Linked DNA regions of Homo sapiens. The protein of the gene in region 1 interacts with the protein of each later gene in a biochemical or structural test. Each region holds a gene or a part of one and is shown in the gene's direction. Other genes may lie near its edges. The genes, in order: NRXN1 and SYT13.

What was found.
Region 2: the proteins of NRXN1 (region 1) and SYT13 form a complex in vitro, tested with the Homo sapiens proteins (one study listed by BioGRID).

The regions. Positions count from the first base shown.
Region 1 is NC_000002.12:51,029,130-51,041,337, reverse strand, and holds the start of NRXN1 (neurexin-1 isoform alpha4 precursor), read left to right. Parts: upstream 1-9,205; 5' UTR 9,206-9,357; intron 9,358-12,143; 5' UTR 12,144-12,208.
Region 2 is NC_000011.10:45,235,737-45,252,162, reverse strand, and holds the end of SYT13 (synaptotagmin-13), read left to right. Parts: intron 1-5,650; coding exon 5,651-5,780; intron 5,781-7,806; coding exon 7,807-8,111; 3' UTR 8,112-11,861; downstream 11,862-16,426. UniProt on the Homo sapiens protein: May be involved in transport vesicle docking to the plasma membrane.

The DNA.
Region 1 (12,208 bases):
TATATCAAGATAGGAAGATTTTCTTAAACAGGACACATGAAACAATAACTACAAAGGAAAATATTAACAAATTGAATTACATTAACATTTAAGTTTTCTGTTTATCAAAAAAATGAAGAAGGAACAAAGGTTAATTACAGATGGGGGAAATATTTTAATACATATAACTGCACAAGCAATCATACCCGGAAAATGTAAAGAGTCCCTACAATTGATTTTAAAAGACAAGTAATCAAATTATTTAAAAATGGGCAAAAGACTTGAATAGACCCTTTTTAAAAGAGGATATCCTAACGGCCTATAAATACATGAATTAGGTACCTAACATAATTGGTCATCTGGAAATTAAAAAATAAAATGTTAATGAGATAGCAGTGAAACCAACTAGAATATCTAAAATTAAAATGATTGATAAATTTTTTTGGCCAGAAAGAGAGAAATTCTCACACACTGTTTTTCAGTGTATAAATAGTGACAACTTTGGAAATCTCTTTGTCAACAACTACTAAAATTAACCCATGACCCAGCAATTCCATTCCTAGGCATGAACCCAGTGGAATTGTGTACATATTTGCAACAAATAACATGTACAATGTTTATAAGACATTATTTGTAAGAGTCCAATACTGAAAACAATACAAATGTTTATCAACAATTGACTAGATAAATATTGGTAAATTTATAAAACTGAATTCAACATTGACAATGAACAAAATCACTGCTGCATGCAACATGGATGGATTTCACAAACATAAAGTTGAACAAAAGAAGGCGGACACAGAGTAGAACATACTGAATTATACCACTTATCTAGATAGCAAAAACAAGCAAAATTAGTTTTGGTAGTTTGAAATCAAGTTATTAATTAAATTTATGGAGGAGAGAATAGAAAATGACTAGAAGGAATAGGAGTTTAATATTCTAATATTTTATCTTGGTGAAAGTCATAAGGGTATGTTCATCTTTTGAAATTCATCAAGATCAAGACTTACGTTTTCTGTCTTGTATTATGTTATTTTATAATAAATACGTTTATTTAAACATACTGCCAGTATTAAATCACTAGAAATCTAGAATATTCCTTTTTTCTTATCCTAACATCCTATTTGGAAAGCAGGTTCACTTTGCACTGGTTACCAACTTGTCTGAGTTTGATGAGACAGAGCACACTCATAAACAACAAGTTACATGATGGAGATTTATTATTTACAAATCGGAAGCAAGGGACAACAGATGCCTGGGATCCATTGTAAACAGGTCCCCCAAGCCCCAAGAAAACTGCCTAGAATGGATGGAGCCTTGGCTGTGAGTGGCCCACTTGCCCCACAGCTGACAGACCTTAAAAGGCAGTCCGCCCTGGGTTATATATCTAAAGGGCCATGGAACTCACTGGGCAACAATTTGAAGGACGTCCTACTTCCTGGAGAGAGAGGAGCAAAGCCTGGGCTGTCCCAGGCAGTTAATTCATAACTGAAGATGTTATATTTCCTAGGGGGAACAGGAGCCAAGGCCTGGGCTATTTCACGCATTCCTCTCTATTTCAAGATATTGCATTCTCAGCAAATTCTGTCATTATTCTTGAGAACTAGAAGAAAAAGGCAGGGGGAACTCAGTGCATTAAAAGCTTCCTGGAGAATTGTCCCGCACTATCCAAGATTTATTTCTACCTAAAATGTATCGAGATGTATCTGTTTAGGGTGACGTATTCTTGCTGTCTCTATTGTGATTTCTCTTCTTATATTCAATTTCTCAAAAAGTAGACTCTAGAATAATGTCTGTATCTTATATTTATAGTTTTCTACATTTGAAAAGTACCACAATAGAATGGTACAGTGAACAAGAATATGGACTTTAGTTTCAGAAAGATTTGGTCCTCACTCTATCAGGAGCGGTCTACAAGTTTGAAGGCAAGATGGGTAGCATCTCCAAGCCATAGTTGGTTGAAAGACAAAGAGAATGAAAGTGAGAGCAAGCCTGTGTGTGTGTGTGTGTGTGTGTGTGTGTGTGTGTGTGTGTGTGAGAGAGAGAGAGAGAATGTCTAATTTTCAAGGTTGTAATGGATAAAGAAATATATATGTAAAATCATCTGCCAAATGGTCTCTTATAATAGTATTATGCATAACTATATTTTTCCATCCTCTATCATGCATCCTGTACTAGTTTCCCAGGTTTATCATAAACTATCACAAATTGGGTGGTTTAAAATATAACTGGGTGGTTTTTATAACAATAAAACATTTATTCTCTCGGAATTCTGGAGGCTAGAAGGCTAAAATCAAGGTGTCAGCCAGGTTGGTTCTTTCCCTAGGAAAAATCTGTTCCATGCCTCTCTTTGAGTAGTCTGCTGGTTGCTGGCATTACCTGGCATTTCTTGGCTATATAGTTATATCACTGCAATTTGTCTTTGTCTTCATGATTCTCTTTCTTATATCTCCTCTGTGTTTTCAAATGTGTCTCTCCTTTTAAAGATGCCTGTCACTGGATTTAGGGCACACCCTAATCCAGTATGACCTTATCTTAATTTGATTACACCTGCAAAGACCCTATTTCCAAATAGTCACATTCATAGATAAGGTGAAGACTTCAACATATCTTTTAGGGGGACAATTCAACTCCCAACATATATCATGCAGGTACTACTATAGGAGAAGCTAAGAGATTTGTCTCTGTTGCCATACAAAGCAAGTAATAAGGCTGCAGCTAGAAACACATATAACTCAGAATTCAGTGCTTCTTGTAACATACCAAACTACTCAAAACAATTATCTTCATGTTCTAAAGGTCAACTTTTAATAGCAACTGTACTGTTTTATCTATCCTATGTGCTTGGCTGAATTTAGAACATGTAAATCAATCTTTTGAAATGTTTACTAGAGAGAATAACCACCCATGATTATGAGTTTGCATGTGTACGTGTATACAAAGCTGTGAAGGGAACAAACTGGTAGGCTGTGTGCCATTTCCAACCAGCAGAGAAGTCTATTTTGTCCTGCACAGTATTGTGGTAGTAGTGGTGATTATTTTTTAATAAGCCAAGATTTTAAAATCAGAAGATTTTACATAACATTTCAGATTTCCAGCTGCTCTTGTAAAATCGTAGGATCTGGCAACACCAGACTCACATGGTCACAAGCTGTTGCGGCCGCAGAGTGAACGCCATTTTTAGAGAAGTATGAACATTTTAGGTGTCCACACTGTCTGCCAATCCTCATTGTTTTCCCAGTTTGCCTACCTCACTCATGTATGTCAAACACCAGACACTGTTAAGCATTGCAGTCTGCTCTCCTTGTTCTAGAGAAAATTAAAGTGCCTCTACTGTACTATAACTTCATTCAATGGGATGTGTACATCAAGCATATACTTAAGGATGTAGTTTATTCCTATTTCACTGATCTTCTTTCCTCAGCAAGAGAAAAACTCTTATCAAAATAAAACTCTTCCCTATTCTGCTTCACGAGTCTCTTCAAAAACCTAAGATTTTTTTTTTTTTACATAAAATGCGGGTATTATTGCTCTAATTTGTGAAGTTACAATAAAATATCTACAACTTTCTGTATTCTTAAGATATCTATCTCTGTGGGTGTCTGTAGTATTAAATGAAAAAATGTAAGTAGGACAAATGGATGAGAAAGGCAAACAAAAATGAGAAGAAAACTCTGAAAAAAAAATGAGGTTTAAAGCTATATTAAGTAGGAGGAGGGCAGTAGCTGGAAAACTGGTAAGAATTGAATATTTTTAAAAATCCATAAGCCCAACATAAAATCAAATAGGATGTGTTTTAAAAGCAAACCACAAAATGTTTCGAGATGCCATCACAGAAAATTGATTCCACAGATTTCTAGGGGGCAGAAATAGGCTAAAAAGAAGCAAAGATATTATAATAAGACTCTTGAATTTCACTGACATCCATAACTCATCACAAATCCCTTGCTCTTTTCTTAAAAGTCATAGTAAGGAATATTAAATAGCACTGGCTAAATTAAACAGATTAACTAGTTGCAGGCACCCAATAAAAATAAATTGGAAGCCACATTGTGATGAATGAGATAATTCCTTTTCTGGAGCCTAGCAGTTGAGAATGGCAGGCTTGAGTGTAGAGTTAGGTTGTGGGGAAGAAAGTTCTGTTCACAAGAAGAGAAATAAGTCATTAGAGGGGGTAATAATGACAGGCTGAAGTGTGCAACTAAATCACTGATCGAGGAAACATAAACCCTCTGGCAGGGACTTTTCACAGACTTCATCTAGCGACAGCTATTCTTCCTCAGAAAGATTTTTCCTCATTGTGGGGGAAGGAGGGGTGGAAGTAAACACAGAGGAACACACTCAGGTGTAAGTGCTGCCCTAGATTTAAAAACACTGCCCATCAAACACGCTGCAGGGTTTCCACATTGAAGCCTTTCTAGCAGGTGCATCGTTCAAAACTTAACTACTGTTCTCAAGGACCTATCTACGTGCTTTCTCTACTGCTGCTTGATACCTTAATAATTATCATTACATTAATGATTTGCAGCCATTTTAAATCACATTCTACCTTCTGATTACAGAAAATTTACATACTCAAGGAAAAGTAGCCTAATTTTACTATGTTTAAGATTTTTTCAAGTAGTAAGAAAGTATTTAACATACTGAGTTTGCTTATTTCTCCTGAAAGTTACTTAGTAAGCTTAATAGGAAATTATGTGTCTTTTTGTACATGTAAATCCTAGTCTGTTTATTCCATTTTATAGCTGAGTCTCAAACCCTAGACTTGATTACATTTCCTTGCATTTTTAAATTCATCTAGTTGTAAAATAAATTTTATATGGCAGCATGTTCAATATCTATTCTTAAACTTTTGTAACCAGAAAACTCTAATTGGTTCATATAAAGAAAACTAGAGACATTTAACTGCAAACAAAAAATGGATTATATTATTAAAATAAAGTCATGAGCTAAACAATAGAATTCCAATTGTGCAGCACTGATAATGTAATTGGTTAGAGAAATTTGATAGCAATCTGAAATTTAGTTGAATTAGCACGTAATATTTTCCTGATACTGTGATTATTTTAGTAAAAGTGGCTTCATTTTGATCATCTATAGGACAGTAAATAGAAAATCCCCTCAGCGATAAATCTTACTGTTTTTTTTGAGTTGTTTCTCATCTTAAGTGAAAATGCATTTAATGTATATCAACTGGTATTTTTCCTCATTGTTACCATGTGTTTCTTCTTCTACCCCTTATATCAGTAAAGCACCCTTCATAACTGATATCAATATTGGAATTCATAGGTATCTCAAAGCTTCCACTTTACCTTAATGTTAATTGAGAAAGTAGGTGTTTACATTGATTTCCTAATGTTAAAGCACAGGGTCTGATTGCAGCAATAAACACAGAGCATCTCTGCTGCATTCGTTTCTCAGTCAAAAAAAATCTTACTACTTAGTTTCATTTATTTTTAGTGTAGCATTAGTCTCCATGTTAGAATTCTCATTAATATTAATAACCTATGGAAATATACTTGCTTTAGGTGAGCATGCATTTCCATTTTCATTGATGCAAAATGTTTACCAGTTTATGGCATGAGATATTATTTATGTTTCCATATTTGGGTTGCCACAAATTCTCCCAATCAGACATAATCATAAACAAGCACCTTGATTTCGCAGTTACCTCATTTGTTCTGAGTGGTAGCTAGGGGCAGGAGTTGAAATCCTTAACATATTTCTGTAGCCTAAAATTAGTAGATTCCCTAAGGTGATTCAGGAGGAATTAATCCTACTTCCCACCTTCTAGAAAAATACTAGATTGTTCTTACAAATGTTAGATTGCTTCAAATTCAGATCTACAGGAATCACCTCACATCTTGCCCAGAAACAAACAAAAAAGGTAGTAACATTGAAAACACGTCACCTATAATATGTAACAAAGTACATGAATATCATATATTTCATACAGTATTAGTCATTAAGGAATGTTATGGCAAAATTCTGGAGTTGACTGTTTAGTTTCCTAGACTCCTCTTGATGAAAGTCTTAGAAAGGAAAAGGAATGAACAATTACGGGCATCTGCATTCTGCCAAGCACTTTGCTACGTATATCTGATGATCCGTTCAAAGTCAGTGTAGCAAGGGGGTTAAGATTACAGAATTGAGTTTGGATTTTTCCTCACACTGTTGCTTGCTTACTAGACTTTGACTATCTGGACTAATCTCTCTATGCTTCACTTTTTCTCATTGGTAAAATGAGTGAAATCCTAGAACCTACCTCTTAGAGTTGCTGTGAGGTTAGAATAAGTTAATGTAAGTAAAGCACTTGGAGCACTGTTTGGCGAGGAGTAGGCACAAAATTAACATTCAATGTTGACATTATCTCCACCAAGTCATATAAATGGAGATGCCATTATCTTTATTTTACTGATGACAAAACTGCCACTTAGAGAGTTGAAGTAATTTATGGAGAAACAACAGAAAAACTCATACTTTAAAATAAATTAACAACTTTTATCATTAAATTATGTTGTGATATTTGCATTCTAAGCTACAAACTGATACTTTTCTCTATGCATATTTACTGAAAAAAAAAAGATCCTGGGGCTGTCCACTTCCTTGGACTACATACAGTAAGTACCTTAAACCTGATTGCAAAGGGGATTACTCCAATACATCATCTATTCCTTCAGTTTATATAGTTTGTGTGTGTGTGTCAGGGAGGCAGTGGTGAAGAGATGTGGGAACACTGGTCTTTTTAATCTGAAAATTCACACATGCAGCATAAGAATGTCAACATTTTTTTTAAATCAAAACACCACAGAAGACATCTCAAGGAAAACCTTGATTCAGTGGAAACACTGTGTAGCCCAATTAAAGATAAAATAAAAATTCACAAAGACGAAATGAAATAAAGTAGGAAATTGTTCAGATCACATGCACTGGTGGTAAATAATGAGTTTTTATGAATCCAGGTAAAAGGCAGTGCTTTGACTCTTAAGAGTGCCTCTAGCACTACCATAATGTTCACTGATGCATGTTCACACCAGATCTTAAGAGCATCATGGAACCAAGTTAGACTTGATTTTTGAAAGTGGGCTGTCCATTCCACTTACTTTTGCAATAAGCTTTAGCTCTATACTAAACACATCGCGGTGTACCTTCTGTACTATTTGTCCTATAACCTAATGGTAGGAAAAATTGAAAAAGGCCCTGAATTAACTAGACTGTTTTTTTGTTTCAAGTTCACTGAATGAATAATTTAGATAAGTAATTTTCTGAGTCTTAGTTTTACATCATTTAAAATTAAATTTTTGTTTTAAGAATCATGTTAACAGCTATTATTTCATTACATTCCCAAAGCAATCTTATGGAATAAGCTGACAATGACTAATACCTCTATTTTATAGTCAAAGAATTCGAGTTTCAGAGAAATTCCTTCCATTGAGTCAAACAGAACACAGAGTGGGTTGTAGTTGATAAATATAGCCAAAATTCCACAATTTGGAATCCACAATTCCAAATATGTTATGTTTATTTATTCATTTCATCTTCACAACATCAAACACATGAAGAGGGAGCTATTATTATATCCATTTTACAGATGAGGTGACTGAGGCAGCATAAGATTAAGTATCTTGCTGAGGTTACAACTAATAAATGGCAGAGATTGAATTGAAGCTCAGACAATCTATTTCCCAAACATGTAACCACTTGACAAAACTGCCTCTCTAAGGGCGATAAACATATTAAAACCTGTGATACCCGCCTTCAGGTTATTTAGACCCTTTTACAAAAGTAGTGAAAGTATAAATCGGCTTATCATAGGAATGAGTTCTAGTTTTTTGGAAGAATATACATATTGTAATTGTAATATATATTATTTTGATGTTCCCAAATTTATCTAGTTCTTAAATTCTTGCTCTATAGGGCCTGGAGGCCAAAAATAGTCTTGCCTTACAGTATTTGAGGTTCAGACTATTAGGTCTGTGGCGTTGCAATAAAAATGTCTGTATCTGCTCCAAAACTAACCCAGGCTAGGAATATACAGGAATAGGAATTTAAATGTCCATAGGGTGCAAACCATAATTTAAAGCCACAGACCCCGAACTCCTCTACCACCTAATCTGTAAGCTCCCTTAGATTTAACCCCTTTCTCACCAAACCCAGCAATGCCTATTGGGCATGCCCAGTTGCATGGTTAGAGCCTCACACCCAGTTTTACTTTCACCAGGTTTTACCAGCTGCAAAAGGGAGGAGGAGACGGAGGGAAGAGTTAAACAGGTAGAAAACTTGGTTCAAGACAGAGCACAGAAGGCTGGAGAATGACGACAGGCTGCAGTAAAAAGCACCTTGTCAGACACAGTTGATCGTCGTCTGCAAGTTGGCATCTTACCCTGGTGGGTTCCTTTTACATCTTTTTGGCACAGCCTAGGCAAGTCATGAAGATTTGTTGTGATTACCCAAGGCAGAGCCACAGTAAGGGGTGGGGCAAGGGACATCGGATCTAGAAGAATGCCAGTGCCTGTGTGAGTCTTGCTTGCCCCTGCATTCCTCGAAAAGCTGCAGCTTCTTTTCAAGGGTTCCGAGCAGGAGACCAAGGTGCACAAGTAAAGCCAGAGCTCATCATAATTATCGACTCCTTGGCCCCTTCTCTTTGACTGCTGGACCCTTTCCTGGCACCCTCTCAGGTATCCCCGCCCAATCACTACCAAACCCCGGAGAAGTGGAATCTCCATACAGCTTTCCATGGGTCTAGCAGGGGCCTGGGCATGCTCAGTAGGCTACGTGGTTCTCTGGTTCGTGTTCGTTCGTTCTCTCTCTCTCTCTCTCTCTCTCTCTCTCTCTCTCTCTCTCTTTCTTTCTTTCCGATGGGGAAGAGAGGGTGGTGACAAGTTAGAAGCGCTTGCGGAAGGTCCCCGCCCCCAGGATCAGGCTCCCCCTGCAAGGGGACGATGCAAAGGTAAAAGCACCTCGCTCCGCAGCATCCAGACCTGGAGGGGCTGCGACCACGGGCCGAGCCCACCCATTCCCCAGCCAAAGGACGGGCCCGCCGCTCTCCATGGTACTGCGGAGAGCTCAGCTCCGCCCTTCTCTTTCAGAAGGACAGCACCCGGCGTCACGTAACCCAGCCTTCTCAGGCTCCACCACCGCCTTTTCCTTCCCAGCTCTTTCCCTCTCCTCCCCCTCCTCCTCCTTCTCCTCCTCCTCCTCCTCCTGCTCCCCTCCGTTGCCTGTTCTCCCCTCCCGCACTCCTGGAGATAGACGCTCAAGCCTGACGCCTCTGAAAAGGCAGCAGCAGTCGCCTTATCCATAGACCTCAGGAAATTCGCTTTGACCGATGCATGCTTCAGGCTCTGGCTCGAGCTGAGGGGAATAACCGGGCAGGTAAAGAAGCTCAATTTGGGTTGGGGGGAGGGGATGGGGCGAGGCAAGCTGAAGAAGGATATCTTTCCCCATTGTAACTGAGCCAGGATCTGCCACAAATACACAGGGAAAGATGGGTGGTGGGAGGGTGGAGGAGTGTAGATCTTGGTTGTTTTGCATGAAGCCTTTTAAATAGATGGCAAGAAGAGATGGTGGAACTGGGGTAGTAACTTAAAGGCTGAATGCAGTGATGTATTAGCAAAAGAAAGAAAATAAGAGACAGGCTAGATATCAAAGCAATAAAATATCTCTCCATATATTTCCTTCCCTACCTCATCAGCCCCACACTGTGCCCATCGTTAATTTGTGCAGTAGACCCCGAGCTCCAAGAAACTGCACTGGTATTAGAGATGGAGCTTAGAGACTGGGCGGGAAAGCCAGAGAGAATTTTGGCTGTGCATTGGTATTGAGAGACTTTGCAAAAGCCAGGGGTGAAATAATAAGCACTTCTAAAATTTCTCTCAGAGATTTCATGTTCTTTATGAAGATATATATATATATTGAAGGGTGCATGGAAAGGTGTAGGTGTGTATGTGTGTGTGATATCAGAAACATTAAAATATGCAACTGCAGCCGATGAGCGTACTGTATTGATCCTCCTAGTGACTTGGGATGAATTTGATTCTAGAAATGAAAGAAAAGATTAATGATGCTGTTAGTCTGCTTTTGAATTAGAGCGCTTCTTCTTTTGGCTGCAGTAAGGATGTTTTTCAGATCCCTTTATTTCATCCTCTAATTTGTGAACTGGCCAGGTCTTTCTGGCACCTAGAGAGAATCCTCTTTTCTCCATATAAATACAGATACTCGCTCACATACAATGAGCTTCCTCCAAGAACTGGGAAAACCAGTTAACCTCCCTGTGATAAGAATGTATATATATCTATATGTACATATATATTGCTCTACGGTTTTTCTCTCTTCCACCATCCCTTAAAATTGTCAAGGTGTGCATTAGTGGAGGAGGGCAGGAGGGACGGGAGAAAAAAGGTTATGTGATCAATGTAACATTAATTAATACAATAATTGGCTCCAACAGAGTTACACACACAAGAAAAAAAAAAAGGTTTTCTAACACATGAGCTTGAGAAAGGGTTCAAAGCACTACTCTTGATCATGATATTCCAGATTTATTTTGCAAATGACTGAAAATTTAGCAGATTCCTGAGTCCACTTAAAATATGAAAGTATACTGAATAATATGCTATTTCAGATGATTTGACGAGCCTCTTTCCTCGGGTTTGATATAGGAGAAGACAAGATATGACTGGTGATTGCTGATGGTGTGGAATGTATCAGCCATAATAAATAAGCAACTGAGATTTTTATTTCCTTTTGCTAGTGGGCAGTGTGTATGTGCGCACACCCACACTGTGTGTGTGTGTGTGTGTGTGTGTGTGTGTGTGTGTTGAAAGAGAGAGAACCAGTCATCAATTTCATCTGGGAGGAACTTGAAGTGGGATACCCTAGCTTGGTGGCTCTCAGCTGACACCTGTGGGGATTGCTCTGTACTGAAGAGAAATGCTCTCAGCTCCCCCCATGGAGAAGCAGCAGCACAATGCGGTGCCATAAATTACTGCTAGTTTCAGCTTGTAAGGGAAAAAAAGTGTTAATTGGGTAGTGAGCTTCTACATCCAGACAATAAATTTGGGGTGTGTGTGTGCATGTGTGTATGGTGTATATATATTGCAGTGTGTGTGTTTGCAAGAGGTGGGGAATATAAGAAATAGTGAGAAAAATAATGCACTTCCTTGACATGAACAGATTATACATTTGTAATTTTTTTCAAAAGGTAAGAGTAATTTTTTGGTTAAAAAATGACTTAGGAAAAAAATCAGTGATTATGATTTCTGTACCATTTCAAGAACCTGTCAGATTAGAGTTGAATAAAGAGAAGTGATTTAATAGTATAGTGAGTGATTCAAAGGTACGGTTTTAAATTCTAGCATCCTGGAGCCACTGCAGCTGAGATGACATACATGCCAACAGCTCTTCTGACCACACAAATTGTGAGGGCTGACAGCAAGATACAGACTTCAGGAGGAGTTAGATCTACACTTTTAGGCAAAATATTAAATACTTTATGCACCTTTAGAGAAGTTAATATTAGGGCAATTGAGACAATGCCAAAAACATAAATCTGGCTCCAATTAGTGGTTTTCTTTTACAACAGATTATTCATTAATATAAAGGAGAACTATACTTGTGTGAAATTTTGCAAGAGACTATCAAGAAACCATCAATATTCCTTCTAAGAAAAATAAAATGGCAGGAATGCTATACAAGTCTAAGCTGGCAGCTTCCTGCCAACAGTTTAATCTAATTTGCCAATTGTAAAATCTCTTAACTGAGATTTGAATAGGTTGTATTTTTACTGTCCACAGAACAAGCACACAACATAGGTAGAAATCCTTAAAAGCATTTGTTCTCCCCTCACATATTTTAAAAATTAAACTATCTTGCGAAAAGAAAAAGATAACCATAATCAAATTTCTCTTTAAAACTTCGGGTTACCAACTAACAGTTATAATAAACTACAAGGGTGTCATGGCTGACTGTAAAAGTGTCATATTAACTATTAGAAAATGTTAGGACTTACTTGTAGTGAGGATAACAAAAGCTCCATACAAGAAGGTTAACTCTTTGCCTTACTAATAGGACCAGGTCTACACTTGTGTTATGAGCTGAATAATGATTTATATAATACTATATTGACTTTAGACCTTAATTTTGACTTTAATTCTCTGCAGATGTCTGAGTCCTTAAAAAAGACAAGATAAAACCAAAATGCATCACCAACACACAACCAATTGAT
Region 2 (16,426 bases), on another chromosome or scaffold:
ATGCCATGCTGTGTGTATTACCTTTACTGCTATGAAGTACTGTCCCCATTTCAATCCAGTTATACTCTGTGTGCTCCTACGATGTGGCAGACACTGCAGGACACTCTACCTTCCTCCGTTTGTGTAGGTGAGCATGAAGGGTGGAGCCCCACCACTCAGGAGTGTACAGACTAGGGGACAAATTGGCACAGACAAATGATGACGATATTTGATGTGTTCCACCCTGAGCCATGTAAGAGAGACCTAACCAATGTGCTCTGATAAAGAATTCTAGAAGGCCCCGTGTGCTAGGCTCTGAAGGAGCAATCAGGGCTGGGGGCAGGCCCAGAGCCCGGTGGTCCATGCAATCCCCAGACTCAAGATGATTTCCCCATATCTGCTGTTGGGGGGCCACAAGTGGGAAAGAAGGGTCTTCTGAGATGCCACAGCCCTCAAGAGAGGGGACCCTTGGGGAGAAAATCATTGTTTCCCATGCGCCAGGACAGCAAGGGGATCTGGGAAGGTCAGGGCTACAAGATGGTATGTAGTTACTTAGGCCCCTGGGTCAAAGCTCATCTAAGGGCCTGCACTGTGGTTCCTTGAGGAAACCTTCTGGGTGACTAGTCTCTCAACCAGATTGGCAGTGCTATACTGATCTAAAGACTGTATAACCTGCATAGCCCCAAATAGGTGTTATTATATTAGCCCCTTTCCAGAAAATGTTTGACAACCCTCATGCTAAAGCAAAAAGCAAAATACTGATTAGGGCACTATTTTTTTTTTTTTTTTTTTTTTTTAGACAGAGTCTCGCTCTGTTGCCAGGCTGGAGTGCAGTGGCGCGATCTCGGCTCACTGCAACCTCTGCCTCCTGGGTTCAAGCGATTCTCGTGCCTCAGCCTCCTGAGTAGCTGGGATTACAGCCACACGCCACCACGCCCAGCTAATTTTTGTATTTTTAGTAGAGACAGGGTTTCACCATGTTGGCCAGGATGGTCTTGATCTCCTGACCTTGTGATCTACCCCACCTCAGCCTCCCAAAGTCCTGGGATTACAGGCATGAGTCACTGCACCCGGCCAAGGGTACTATTTTTTAATGCTCACCATCAGTTACTATGCTTAGGACTCTACCTGAGTGCTGCCACTCTCCAAATCAACCAGATGAGAGAGACACCATGACTATCCCTCTTACAGATGAGGAAACAGGGTCATAGCAGTTCAGGAATCCACACAGGGTCCCACAGCCAGGAAATGGCAGACCTTGAGGCCGGGTTGGTCTGACTCGAAATCCTGTGCTATCTCATTACCTGCCATGAAAGCCACCTGACAAATATGAGGTGTGACCAGCAGGCACCTTTCCTAATAGACACCCAGACTGCAGGAGGGAAGAGTACGTTTCACCCGCTGTCTGCTCCTCTTTTTGCTATGATTTCCTCCTTGCTCCATTTTTTCCTCTTTCCCAGGCTCAGAAAATTGTTAGAAAAATCACAGCCACTCTCAGATGGAACTCAGCTGTTCCAAAGCCCACTCTCTAATTAGTGTGTGATTTGGGACTTCTGTGGAATCACAGATGGGGATCCTGGGAGAAGGCATCAATACTTAGGATTATTAAACTAGTAAACTAGCTTTCTCTCGAGATGCAGAGACTCCCCTGCTGGGCTCTGAGACTTGGTACAGCCCCAAAGGGCAGAAATCCAGCCAATCTAGGCAGAAGTCTCAGGCACCTAGCAGCTTCTCTCACTGCCCTCTAGAAGAGCAGCCATCATTCACTCATTCATTCATTCTGCAAATACCTTGCCCAGTTTCTACCATGTGCCAGGCGCTGTGCCAAGAGCTGGGGACATAGCAACAGTAATTAAGATGAAGCCCTGACCTTGCAGCTCATCCATCCTAATAATTATCATACTTTCTGTAGCTGTTTCTGTTCTGCAAATATGTACTCACAACCACTTTGATCACTGACCTGTTTACTACAAATGTGAACAACCTCAGAGGGTGGCATGGAGTCAGAAGTAGGAGGTGACTTTCTGGGTGTATAGGGCAGGAGAAAGCTGGAAGTCCAGGCCAGGCAGCCCCTCGCCCCAGCTAGAGGGTGTGGGCTGATTTGAACAAGGTGAGTGGAGCCCTCAGTCATTGCAGCCCAGATGTTTTTCTTCTCTAGGCCAGATGGGTTAACAGACTTGCCCACGGTGCCCAGTTCTAGCTGGAAGATACTCAGCCAAAAGTGCCATGTGCATCAAGAGTGACTCACAGGGCAATCCACTCCAAGAGCAGTCTTTGATTATTATTATTATATTTTAAGTTCTAGGATACATGTGCAGAACGTGTAGGTTTGTTACATAGGTACACATGTGCCATGTTGGTTTGCTGCGCTCATCAACTAGTCATCTACATTAGGTATTTCTCCTAATGCTATCCCTCCCCCAGGCCCCCACCCCTGACATGCCCTGGTGTGTGATGTTCCCCTCCCTGTGTCCAAGTGATCTCATTGTTCAATTCCCACCTAAGAGTGAGAACATGTGGTGTTTGGTTTTCAGTTCCTGTATTAGTTTGCTGAGAATGATAGTTTCCAGCTTCATCCATATCCCTGCAAAGGACATGATCTCATTCCTTTTTTATGGCTGCATAGTATTCCGTGCTGTATATGGGCCACATATTCTTTATTCAGTCTATCATTGATGGACATTTGGGTTGGTTCCAAGTCTGCTATTGTGAATAGTGCTGCAATAAACATATGTGTGTATGTGTCTTTATAGTAGCATGATTTATAATCCTTTGGGTATATACCCAGTAATGGGATGGCTGGGTCAAATGGTATTTCTAGTTCTAGATCCTTGAGGAATTGCCACACTGTCTTCCACAATGGTTGAACTAGTTTACAGTCCCACCAACAGTGTAAAAGCATTCCTTTTTCTCCACATCCTCTCCAGCTTCTGTTGTTTCCTGACTTTAATGATCGCCATTCTAACTGGCGTGAGATGGTATCTCATTGTGGTTTTGATTTGCATTTCTCTGATAAGCAGTGATGATGAGCATTTTTTCATATGTCTGTTGGCTGCATAAATGTCTTCTTTTGAGAAGTGTCTGTTCATATCCTTTGCCCACTTTTTGATGGGGCTGTTTGTTTTTTTTCTTGTAAATTTGTTTAATTTCTTTGTAGATTCTGGATATTAGCCTCCAAGGGTAGTCTTGCATGGTTCACTAAGACCTGAGAGAAAGAGAGGGGCAGGGAAAACCAGGGAAAGGAAGAAGAAAGAAAGGATTACTTTAGTCTGCAGGTACTTTCAGCAGCAGTGCCCAGGGAGCAGGTGTTGAAATTGTCTGGCTATGGTGCAGCCGGCTAGGCTAGTTAGACCTCACCCTATGCAAAAGTGAAAAGCCCTGCAGAGGCTGACAGGTGCTGACTCCTCTCACCTGGTCTGTAGGTAGCAGAGGACTCAAGTCTGGTAACCCTGTGGCTATAGCCCGGGCTACCTGTGGCCCTCTAATAATCAGTGATGAGCCAGGAGGCTGGTGCCCATCCCAACTCTGCAGTCACCTCTCTGGGTGCCTGGTACAAGTCCCTGGGCCTCAGTTCCTTCACTGTGAAATGAGAGGGTTAGGGAGGGCTGTCAACTGAGAAAGCTGGAGAGCCATGGATTCAGGACTTAAGTTTTGCTGTCAGACTGGACCTCCTTTCCAAGGCTTGGTTTTGCCACTTCCTGCCTACATGACCTCTGGCAATGATGTTCCCTTTCTGAATCTGAGGTTCTTGTGCTTAAAATGGGAACAAAATCAGTAGCCCTCTTGAGGTTGTCATCAAGATTATAAATGGAATGTGTTACCCTTTTTTCACAAATGTTTATTGTGTGCCCACTGTGTCCCAGGTGCTGGAGTTGCATAGTGTGAATGGAGGCCACAGTGGAGCTTACTTTCTAGTGGGATGGACAATGTAATTGCACTTCACACACAGTGTTTAATAAATGTTAGCTGCTACCATTCATTTCATTGCCAAGATCCTTTGAGGCTCCCAAATCATTTCTTCATATGACCAGTCCCTCAAGACTTGTGGAATCATTGGGGTCATGCAGAAATGGAGGCTTAGAAAAGTTAAGTAACTTACCCAAGGTCATAGAGGTAGTAAATGGTAGGATTGGAACTCAGACACAGTTAATCTGGTTTAGAGTCTATGCTCTCAGCATTACTCTTATTCTGGGTTATTAATAATTGTTGTTTTGACTGTTGTCATTAGAATTGTAATTTATGACCTTTACTAAGAACTTGCTATATGCATTTTCTCACTTCATCCTCTGATATCTATATTTCTTCATAGCATTTAATGCTGCCCGATGTTATATATTTAATCACTTCCTTTCTGTCTTCCCCATGTGACTGCAAGCTTCTTTGAGACTGATTCTGTTTAGTTCATGGCTTTAATTATGGCATCTGGAATATAGTAGGTGCATTGCATATGCTTGCTGAATGAATGAATCCACTAGAGGCCACAGTGAGCAAAGAAAAACCGATTTCAACCCTTCTGAGTGCCTGGTCCAGGATGGATGAACAGACATCCTGGGTGTGACAGAAGGGGAGGAAGCTTAGGGAGTCACGGTGGCTGTTAGCCAGGGCTCCAGCCTGGTACCAGACCTCATTGAATTACCCTCATTGCACAGCTGGGAAAGAGGGACAAAGCTGGAGGGAAGGGCCACAGGACTGAAAGCTGTGACATCTGGAGGGACAAGCTTCCATGGGGCCTTCCCCCACTCCCACTCCCCACTCCATCTTGGCACAGCAGGCCACACATCTGCCTCTTCCTTGGGATTTCGAGGGAAGGGCATCTTCTTCCTGCTCAACAGAGGAGACTTCTGACCTTCAGCTGATCCCTGCCCACACACTCCCTTCTCTTTCCTGCCAGGTCTCCCCAGAGCTTGGATTGCAACCAAACACCCACCTCCTAGGAGGGGTCTTTCGGTCATTCTTGTCCCTTGACGGATTTGTTGAAATTCCAAATAAACTCCTGTACGAATTTCAGGAGAGTTACTCTAAAGCTGCGTGCAGGGATAGATGTGTTTGTTTGGATGCCTCACAGGGGCATCAGCACCTCCTTCAAGGTGTGGTTATTGCCAGTTGCCTCTGGGCATGATCTACCATCATACACCCCAGCACTTCATTGACATTACTTGTCATTCTGTTGATGAAGCAACCTCCTGGAGCTGGAAAGAACTATCTTTTCAAACATAGTAATGAATTACAATTCTCCCGCTGCCCCAGGAACCTGATGGGTCCATGCAGGGATTCTGAAACTGTTCTCTGAGGCCCTAGAGGACAGAGGTGTCCCAGGAGCTTGGGGGTGGCAGAAGGTGAAGGGTAATGGGGAATTCTGGCCTCCTCCCCGCTGCTGCATTCTGAGTAGCCTTTCTTTGTTCTGTTTTGTATGTTGGATTTGAGTATATGGTATATGAAAAATCACATTTTGAGGCAAACAAAGAAACTGCTATTGAAGCGCATGCCGCATGGAATTCCTCTGTGCCTTGCTCTCTTCTGCAAGGGTGGACACCCCAGCATTGACGGGTAAATGGTTTCAAGGATGCGTGTTGGATGCAAATCCAGCATGGTTCCAGCTTCAGCATTTGTTGATGGGTTGGAAGGCGTCCCCAGGTGAGACTCCCCTCCTGCATCTCCTTTTCTGTTTCAGGAGCCATCTGCAGGAGCTGGAGAGGTCCTACTATCCATCAGCTACCTCCCGGCTGCCAACCGCCTCCTGGTGGTGCTGATTAAAGCCAAGAACCTCCACTCTAACCAGTCCAAGGAGCTCCTGGGGAAGGGTGAGTGAGATGTGAGAGGATGGCCAAGGCCCCTCCAGCTACCGGGAGTGTGTGCTGAGGGAGGTGGTGCCTGGGAGGAAATGGTCACAGGTAAGCAGGGAGGTGGAATATGAGCACATCTACGGAGCCATGCTCAGCGGTGTTCTTCACCCTAAGTTCACAAATTGATTTTCGAGGACACACTCACTTCTATGAGTTCCCATCCATTTACTCTTGGATCAATCCCATCCATTAGGACCCCAGTGTGAGCTACCTGGGGTTCCCTACCTTGGAGATCCACTATGAGAACCATCAGCCCTAACCACAGAGCACAAGAAGCCAAGGGTCAGACTATAGCCGTGGAGTGAAGGGCCTGGGCTGTCGGGAAAACTTGGCCCAGCCCTTGTCACCCACACCTGGCTGGACCCACCTTTCAGGCAGATGTCAGGAAGGCCAGGTTATTCCCCTCCTGTCTGAACTCACCACCACTGCACTCCTGCCACCCACCCCAGTCTCTTCTCTCTTCTCAGCCTTTGCCAACTGCCACCCTCACACCAGCTGAGTGTGGGTGATGGCAGAAGGTGTGTGGGTACATGGGCTGAGGCCTGAGGCTTCAGGCGTCTGTGCCCCATATACCCAAATAAGCTTTTCTGCAACACCCTGGAAGCCTCAGTTTTTCCTTCTGGATACCCCAGCCCAGGTCCAGCATCTCGGAGACCAAAACAAGCTCTCCTATATGAGCAGGAAAGCATCCTCAGCTAGCCAGATAATACCTGGACTGGAAGCCACATGCGCCTAGCAAGATATAAATAAGTCTCTATTTATAGCAGGGTACAAATAAAGAATTGCCACTGCATTCTGAATTTCGAGCAAAAGACTTGGGGCTAATGGAATCAGAAGAGTTGGTCTTGCTGGCAGGTTCCTGAGTCAAAGGTCAAAGTTCAATGCTTTTATCTCATTCCCTTTAGACAATTCTTTGCTTCTTGCTCTCTTTTATAGCTCCTGTCAGGACAATTACAGTACAACACTTCGTCTCTCAACTCTCTCTGTAGAAATAACAAACTAACCTCCCAGAGGTGATAATTACAGCAATAAATACAAAGTAACAATTATTCTCACATTAGCTTTGGAAACATTGACTAAGTAATCCAGTCCAGCCTTGTGATGTGACATGAAAGCTCGCCTGGTGACCTGTTTGTGGATTTCCTTGGGGCCAGCTCTCTTGGTGCAGTGCCCTGGGTTTGGGGGAGCGTGCAGGAACAGGCAGTCTGCCTTCATCCCTCTTCCACATGAAGTTGGGGGTCTTCAAATAAAACTTTAAAAAGTACGGATGAGAAGAACTCAACCAACCAGCAGGGGATCTCCTATTTTGATAACAGACAAACATGCTTACACCAAGAATCAAGGGGATGAAGAGTTGGGAGCTGGCTTCATTTTTCTGGTCTGAGTTTAAAATCCAGCTGCAGGACCCCTGAGCTGTTGTCATGGACCTGGTTTGATGTGAGGATATGAAGTCATGTAGCAAAGGTGGTTCCCTCTTGGTACTCTAACATGCCCCAATCACAGGCCACCCAGTGGCCAGCCTTCTATATCATGGTATTGGCCGTTTCCTACACTTTAGTGTCAGTTCTATGGAGGCAAGAACTTCTGCTGCATCCCCACTTCTAGACCAGTGCCTGCCATAGGGTAGGCACTTAATATTTGTTGAATGAATGCATGGCCTAGTGGGGGAGTGGAGAATAATCCCCAATGCAAGGAAATGAAAGCATCCTGGATCGACTCCTAGAGTTATAGATTGTCCGGGTGGGATGCTTTCCTGCTGGTATAGCAGAGCCTTCTATGGTCACATAGACTTGGGACCTGTGCTGGGGTATCCAGAAGGAAAAACTGAGGCCTCTAAGATGTTTGGGTATATGGGGCACAGATGTCCGAACTCTTGAGCATCTTTCCAGCACCAGGAGGGAGCTTTGTCCTGGGCCCTGCCAGATCCCAGAAACTCACTCTTGTCCCTTCTCTCTGTCTCTTTTTCCCCTCTGCCCCTCCCCAGATGTCTCTGTCAAGGTGACCTTGAAGCACCAGGCTCGGAAGCTGAAGAAGAAGCAGACTAAACGAGCTAAGCACAAGATCAACCCCGTGTGGAACGAGATGATCATGTTTGAGCTGCCTGACGACCTGCTGCAGGCCTCCAGTGTGGAGCTGGAAGTGCTGGGCCAGGACGATTCAGGGCAGAGCTGTGCGCTTGGCCACTGCAGCCTGGGCCTGCACACCTCGGGCTCTGAGCGCAGCCACTGGGAGGAGATGCTCAAAAACCCTCGCCGGCAGATTGCCATGTGGCACCAGCTGCACCTGTAACCAGCTGCCCAGCTGCCTCCCTTCTTGGACAGCCCTGACCCGTCCTCTGCAACCTCCTTTCTGTGCCCCTTTCCTCATTCTGACACCCAGAAGACAGTGACAGATGTGTTTGCAAGGCTGGGATGGCTCTCTCATCATACTCTTGTTTCTTAGAAATAAGCAAGACAGAGCAGGAAATGGAATATGCGGGTCACACTGAGGAATGCATTTTGCTCATCTGTGTTATTGAAGGAGGTGCTTATTAAATACAGTTCCTATGCCTGTTTTATAGGTGGGGTTAGGCCAGATGCAGAGAAAGCTAAATGTGGGAATCATGGATGCAAAGAAGAATTTGGCTTTTTGAAAAACAAGCATTTCAAAAATGATGAAGGAAGTGAAAGTATCCTGGATCAACTCCTAGAGTTAGAGATTGCCCAGGTGGAAAGAAACCTTAGCCAGCGTTCAATCAAGCTCACCATGCAGGGCAGTCACCCGGCAGTTCTCAAACTTTAGCATGTGAAGAGTCACCAGCAGATTCCTGGGCTCGCCTGGAGACATTCCTAGTCGGTATTCCTGGTCGAAGCCCAGGAGCCTTCCTTTTTAACAAGCTGATGTAGAGGGTGGAGCACTGTATGTGGAGAAATTCCTTCTACAATATTCCACACAGGTTTTTGGCCACAGTCCTTGATGGAGTCCCAAAACCATGGTGCAGCCAGTTCCAATGCTGGACACCTCAACCATCAGGGTGAAATCTGGGGCCTCAGCTTTTTAATTTAATTATTTTAATTCTTAATACTTTAATTTGTGCATTTCATAAGCCCCCTGCTCTTGGACTGAATTTTGTGCTTTTTATTGAAGAATTTTATTGTTTTTATCTTAAAATCAGTTTCTATTATCCTTGGGGAGACCATCCCTAACAAAGTACAGGTGGGATCTCCTGTGAGTCATTGGCTGGGTTCTGATTGCTAGATGTCACACCCACCAGCATCACCAAAGTGACTCTGAGATAGACCGGTCCCTTCTCAGCGTTCCAGTCACTTCAGGAGGAATTTAGTTATTGACTTAGTCTATGACATCTGGCTACATGTAGGTAGAGAAGAAAGATAATTTTAAAAAGGAAATCAGGTCTTTTGCAACTGTGCCTCCCTCTGTCTGTTTTCACTTGAATGGGTAAATAACCAGCAGCTAGGTTTTGAATTCCTACCTTGTTATTCTAAACAGATGTCCACATTGTTAATTAAATCTAAATTATGAGCCTTGCTGAGTGGATACGGTACTTACACCTGAACCAGGATTCCTGGGTTCTGTTGTTGACATTGCCCTTCAGCACCTGTTTGGCCAGCTGTGTAAGATAGGACTAATGACTAGGAAGCCTACCCCAATGAATGATATACTAGATGAAATAGTGTTCAAAACCTGTAGGCACTCTCTGGCTAAAAACAAACTCTGAGGCCACCAGCAGATCATCTTTAAGCTAAGTTACTATTTTTCACCTTTTTTTTTAGACGGAGTTTTGCTCTTTGTTGCCCAGGCTGGAGTGCAGTGGCACGATCTCGGCTCACTGCAACCTCCGCCTCCCAAGTTCAAGCGATTCTCCTCTCTCAGCCTCCTGGGTAGCTGGGATTACAGGTGCCCACCAACATGCCTGGCTAATTTTTGTACTTTTAGTAGAGATGGGGTTTCACCATGTTGGCCAGGCTGGTCTTCAACTCCAGATCTCAGGTGATCTACCCTCCTCGGCCTCCCAAAGTACTGGGATTACAGGCCTGAGCCACCGCGCCCGGCCTATTTTTCACTTTAATTTGGCAGCTGAGAATGCCCAGAAAGTGCCAGAAGCATCGTGGCATTTCCAGAACCATGGATTCTGCCTTTGGACCCCTCTCTATTAATATTAAAACTCTGGGCCTTCAGATGTCACCCTAATCCACTTCCCTAAGACAGAATTTCTGGACAAGATGGGTAAGGGCTTCATTCCTTCAACAAGTCAAGTCATACTTGGCCTCTCCCTGAGAATCTGAGCAGGAGCCTTATAACCTGTGGTCATTATTTTTTCTTTCTGTACAGAAATAGAAAAGCATTAGAAATAACTTCTAACCATCCTCTGAAAAAACAGAAAAAATATCGAATCCCTCTTTCATGAGAAGTCTTTTGGATAATTGGAAACCTTCATCACTGAGGTTGGCCAGCCCCTGCCAAGTGTTGTGTAGGCAAAGCACTTGTTAGTGGCTTCCTATGAAATGTTTTAGAGATCTCTTCACCATACTGGTTTCTTCTCTTTGGTTGGTGTGGGTAAAAGAAAACAAAACATTTCCTATAAGCTGAAAGCTGACCAGCATTCTCTTCTTGGTAACATCTACTACTCCAATCTAGAAAATTTGGATTCTAGACCAAAAATCAGGAAACATGGCTCCTTATAAATCTGTGCAGCTGCCTTATAGTACCATCAAAGGAATTTCAGGTGGGCTGGGCGGGGCCCCGATCCCAGAATTATCAACTCCACCCATCATCATTTGGTCATGAAGCATCCTTTCATTCTTCTTCTTCTTTTTTTTGGGGGGGCGGGGCGGGGGAGGGATCTCAAAGTTTTAGTCTTCCAGAATCCAAATTAAAGGTTGCCCCTGATGGGGGCCAGGTTCCGCCACAGAACATCTTAGATGTCAGCCTTGACCTCACTTAGCAGGGATTACAGAAATGAGATACATTTTGAAGGAGAGTTGTCTGTTATGTTCACTGTATTCTAAGTGCCTGGGATAAAGCTGTCTCATGGGTGCTCCATATATATTCATATATATTTGTTGAGTGAATTAATGAATTAAGAGTGGCTGGCAGAGTAGGCAGAAAAAGACACTGCAAATGGCATAAAAATTAAAGTCCTAGCTGAGTTCTCAATGGTAAAGGCATCAGATGTCTTAGCAGTCAAGCTAGAAATTCATGACAATGAGTATTACTATTTGCCTAATGGCAACTCATTGCTCTCCATGTAAATGTAATCAACAGATGAAGAGAATATAATTGCTCTGCTTTTCCACTAAAACTCCATCTTAGTGAATTTTAAATTATCCAGAGATGTCAAACTGCCAAATAAAAATATTTCAGTAGTCTTTGCATCAGCTTACCTTGTACCAGAAACATTTCCAATTTACTATCAAATTATAGTAACTGAGCCTGTGTGAAGTATCTCATCATTTTCGAAAGGAACACCTTGTGTGATGCCAGTGAGCATTTCTAAAAAGGGTGTGAGGTAGAGGTAAAAATAAGGTGAGAGACCATTTCAGAATGCACTGTTGCTCAAAAAGGTGATCTGGTTCTTTCTTCAGAGATTTCTACGGGGATAGAAAATCGGGAGTCTGCCCTCATTAATCTGTGATTCCACCTCTTGCACCAAATCAATATCTATTTGTTGAGCACTTATTGATTAAGACCTTGCATATGTCTGTCCATTTTGATTTGAGATACAACTTTTTGTGTGGGTTGAATGACAAATCACTCCAAACAAAGCTGGGCACAGAGAATCAGCTAGGAGACCAGTTATTCAGGGTCCATTTCTCTTGGATGTAAAGGAGTCCTGGGTAAAATGTGGCTGTAACCTAAACCAACTAGTCCTTGTGATTTGTTTCTGCCCTCTGTGTTTCCTGTTGTCAAATGCTAAGTGTGTGTTTTGCAGTCATGAACTAAAGCACAAAAAGATGCATGAGACATTGTAGTCATATGTCTGGTGTGACACTTTGGAGCAAAAACCTTGCAGTGGTAAATAAAAAATTTCCAACAGGGTCAGCTGCCTGGTGTTTTCTTTTTTTCCGTTTTACCTAATATTTTGGCATATAAAATGCAGAAGAAATCATCTGATAAGCACTTATGAGCCACTGCCATGTTTAATAAAACTTGACAACTACAATTGAAGTACCCTCAGTGCCCTTTACTCAGAAGACCATGACCTTGGATTTGGGGTTTATCATCCCAGGCATTCCCTCATACTTTTATTACATGTCTCTGTAAGCCCTGAGTTCCATAAAGTGTTTTTAAACTTCATTTAAATTGTATCACACTATTTTCACTCAACATTAAATATTTCAGTTTCATCTGTGCAGACACATGCAGCTCCAGTTTATTTCTTTTTCACTGATGTATGATATTCCATTGTATGGATATGCCACAGTCCTATGCAGTTGATGTATATCTACATGTTTCTTTTTCTTTTTTTTTTTTTTTACTGTTACAAGAAATGCTGCTATGACATTCCTCTGCATGTCTCCTTGTGCGCTTGTGTGAGTTTCTCTAAGATATATACCCAGGAGTGAGTCATAGAGTACTCTGTGCATGTGCATGTGTGTGTACCTTGGTGGCCTTGCTTGAGTACTGAATCAAAGAGGCTACATACAATTAGGAATGCCAAGGTTGGGTGAAGCTTTTCAGGGATTTGGCTTCATTGCTGGGGAGAAAAATTTGGTGGAAACTACTAACTTCTCTTTCTTTAACATTCCCCAAAGAAATACTCCATCAATGGAAGGGTCTAGTAGCAGCCAGTGGTACTCATGAACTCCTGGTGGCAAGCAGGGACAAGGGCACTCCTGGAGTCCTGTCATCCTAAGCCTTCCTGGTGGCCACTACAGCCCTGGCCTCTGGAGGAAGAGGGATTAAGCAAGGGGCAGAGCCTGAATTTTCAAGCTAGTAGAAAATTAGCCAGGTCACACAGAATTAAAATAGAAGGTTCTTAAATAGGATAAACAATCCATAAAGAAAGCCATGAGATGTCGTTGCTTTCCAAGTCTGCACATAATTCCCTATTTTATATTATGTATACACATACATTCTATTGTAATGGCAACTAGCATTTAAATTTTCATAATAAAGTAGGATCAGTTGGTTTTATCCCACATAGTCGAATGTTATGCAGACTATGTTTCACAGGTAACTATGAATATGGCCCACCTGAACCCAAAACTCATACTTAAGAGTCTGGATTGATGTAAAAGAGAAATGGAAGAGGGAAGCAGAGTTCATGAGTCACTTTATACATGGACTTTCCATTGAAATGCTTCGAATAACAAGCACTGTTCCTGCGTATAAAATTGACTCATGTCTAGAGCATTGCCTCAGAAGCTGGGAATCTGCAACCCGGCTTGGCTTTGTGACTGACCACTGTAAAATGAATTTGGAGCAAATGATCACTAAGGCTCCTTCCAGCTTTAACATTTTGTGATTCTATGACCTAGACTGTCAACAGCTTTGGCTCCTTCCAGCTTTAACATTTTGTGATTCTATGACCTAGACTGTCAACAGCTTTTTTTTTTCTTTTTTAGACAAGGTCTGGCTCTGTCACCCAGGTCAGAGTACAGTGGCACAATCTAGGCTCACTGCATCCTTGACCTCCCAGGCTCAAGCAATCCTCCCACCTTAGCCTCCTTAGTAGCTGGGACCACAGGCACATGCCACCACACCCGGCTAATTTTTTGTATTTTTTGTAGAGATGGGATTTTGCTACGTTTTGCCCAGGCTGATCTCAAACTCCTGGACTCAGGCGATCTGCTCACTTTGGCCTCCCAAAGTACTGGATTACAGGTGTGAGTCACCACACCCAGCCAACAACTTACTTTTTACACATACCTTTAGCCTTCTATCTTGTGCATAAAACAAATTAAACCTACATACATGTGTACTTGCCCTCCCTGCCCCATGCCTGCCTGGCAATGTCCCCCGGTATCTCCTGACACTCCCTCCTGACAGCTACCCACTCCTCTAGACAACCTGAAATGGCACCTGAGGCTTCAAGTCAGCCTCTTCTCATTTGCTTAATTGCTAATGGAGCTGGTGGTAATTTTCCATCCAAGAGTTTCATTTTTTTTTTTTTTAGAGCCAGTTGGAAGCATCACCATTTCAGGAGCTCTGAACTCTAGCATCTGTTCTGTCTCCCTCCTGAGGCAGACGCCTGGCAAGGATAAAGCCACAGGATGTGGCTGTGGATGGATTTAGGGAGCTGGGCATTTTCTTAGTCCAAGTGTTGGAGAACTGTCCCCTTGCTCCACTTCCTCATCTCCTGCAGGTGAGCCAGCACAGATGGCCCCTGGCAGGGACCTCAGCAGCTTCCTCAAGCCAGAGAAGAAGACCCCTACCTTGGAGGAGGATGGGAGGAAGCCAGACTTTCTCCCAGATAGGCGCCTCCATCTCTAGAAGCCAGACGTTGCCATGGAAACTGAGCTACTGGTGGCCACTGTGTGATTTGGCCCCTGTGCTCGCTCATCCCCAGCCAGGTTTGGTCTCCTGTCAGTGCAGCCTATCCATGCTAGGGCATATAGTTCCCCAGCTCAGTTTCCCAGTGCCCTTTCTTGGTGTTTCAGGACAGCCTGTTGGCAAGTGAGCAATGGCAGAAATCCTGTTTCAGAAACCTAGGGATTACAACCAGGGACAAGCAAGGAGGAACCTGCTTTTCTAGCCAGAACAAACAGAACCTCTCTGCAGTCCCTTTCTCGGGGGCCAGGTGAGATGAGCTGCAGGAAGCAGAACAAGGTGCCCTGAGGATCTCTCTGAGAGGGGAATGGTGATTCCCATTTAGGTAGAGGCATCCACGCCAGTTGAAGATGTAAGTGGCTCTGTATTAAAAGTCACCCCAGGCAGCCCCAGGGATTCTGGATGAAAGAGGATGGCAGCAGGAAACCTTGACGCTTCCTAGCACCTCATTCACCCTGATCTTAGCGGTCGCAATGAGGATGATAATGATAATCAGCACCTAGTAAACCATGGCTCTGGGCTAAGCACTGAAGAGATAGAATAGGATAAGTGACTCATCCAAGGTCCCATAGGTTGAAAGAGGCACAGGAGGATTTCAGTCTGGGACGGTCTAAACCTAAAAGGTCTAGGCTCTGGGGTACAGCCAGTAGCCCAGGGTCTTTATTGGAAGATCACTTACATGCATAGGCAGTAGCTTAAAAATGCTACTTGGAAGCATGAACTCTGAGAATCACCAAGCTGGAAGGAACTGGAAAAGTTCTCTTTCCTATAGGAACTAGGAGGCACCTGGCTGGATTGGGCAGAACATTGTCCAAGGGGCAAGAGCAAGTTGGAATGGAGGGGAACTCAAGTGAGTACCATGGGAACAACCTCCAGCTTTGTGGAGTAGGGGCTGGGTCAAGGTTAGATGCAACCAGAGGTCAGGCGCAGGGTCTTTCTGATCAAGGAAGGAAACCAAGATAGAGACAGGCAACATGGAAGAACCTAGGACCTCAGCTGTGACCAAGACAGCATTGCAGGAGTTGCACTTCTATCAGGAGTGGCTTAAGTTCATTCACCCCTTCAATACCCACTGATTAAATGCCCACTATGTAGCTTTTCCCTTGTGGGTGTTACCATATGGAAGGGGAAGACGGACATAAAACAATCTCTGTCTTTCTCTATCTCTCTCTGTCTGTCTCTCTCTCTCTCTCACACACACACACACACACACACACACACACACACACACACACAGAGTAATTATACAGTTTAGATAGGCTGGCCAGGAAAGACCCCTTTGAGGCTGCATTTTAGATGAGACCTAAAAGAGGAGAAGAGTTCAGTCATGTAACCATCTGGGAAAGCTATCCCAGGCAGGGGGCTCATGGCATCAGAGGATCCCGAGGTAGAAAAGAGCTTAGTGAGTTGAAGGCAGTGTGGCTGGAGCCCAATGCAGGGGAGGACAAGATGAGGCTGGGAGGTAGGCAGGGCTGCACTGTGTGGGGCTGATGGGTCATAATTAGGAGTTTGGATTGAATTATAAGGGTAATGGGAAACCAGTGGAAGGTGTTAGGCAGAGCAGATGCCATGACTGAATCTAAGTTTTAAAAGATCATTCTAGAAATTGTTGCATGGTAGCCTTTCAGGTCTTCAGGCAGCTGGTCATTCTCCTAAGTCCTCTCTGGGTTGGACTCAACTTGCCCTTGAATCTTGGGGAAGGAGGGACAGGAGAAGCTGGGGAAAAGAGGGAGGAAGGGAATGGAATAGACCTCACCTCCTTATCATTTCCTACAAGCCCCACTTTGGGGAGACCAATTTCATGGTGAAGTGCAAATGGGGAGTCTTTCCTTCCCTTGCTTCCTGGTGATGAAATCATTAACATGTTCCAGATACTGCTGCAAAGGTGGGTCAAATCTGTGTAGCCCAGCATGGGGGCGGGCCTGAGCCTGGTTCACTTGGGCTGATTTGGTGTGGACAGCTATGTCTCTTTGCTCCTTCTTTCCCTACACCTCCTCTGGGAAGAAGAAAACTAGACTGTTCCATGGGTCTGTAGAGTGGCTTTCACAACAGGAGGCCTCTGAGTGATCAACCACGGGAAGGAAGCCTTCAAGGGCTGGGAGGAAAATGGC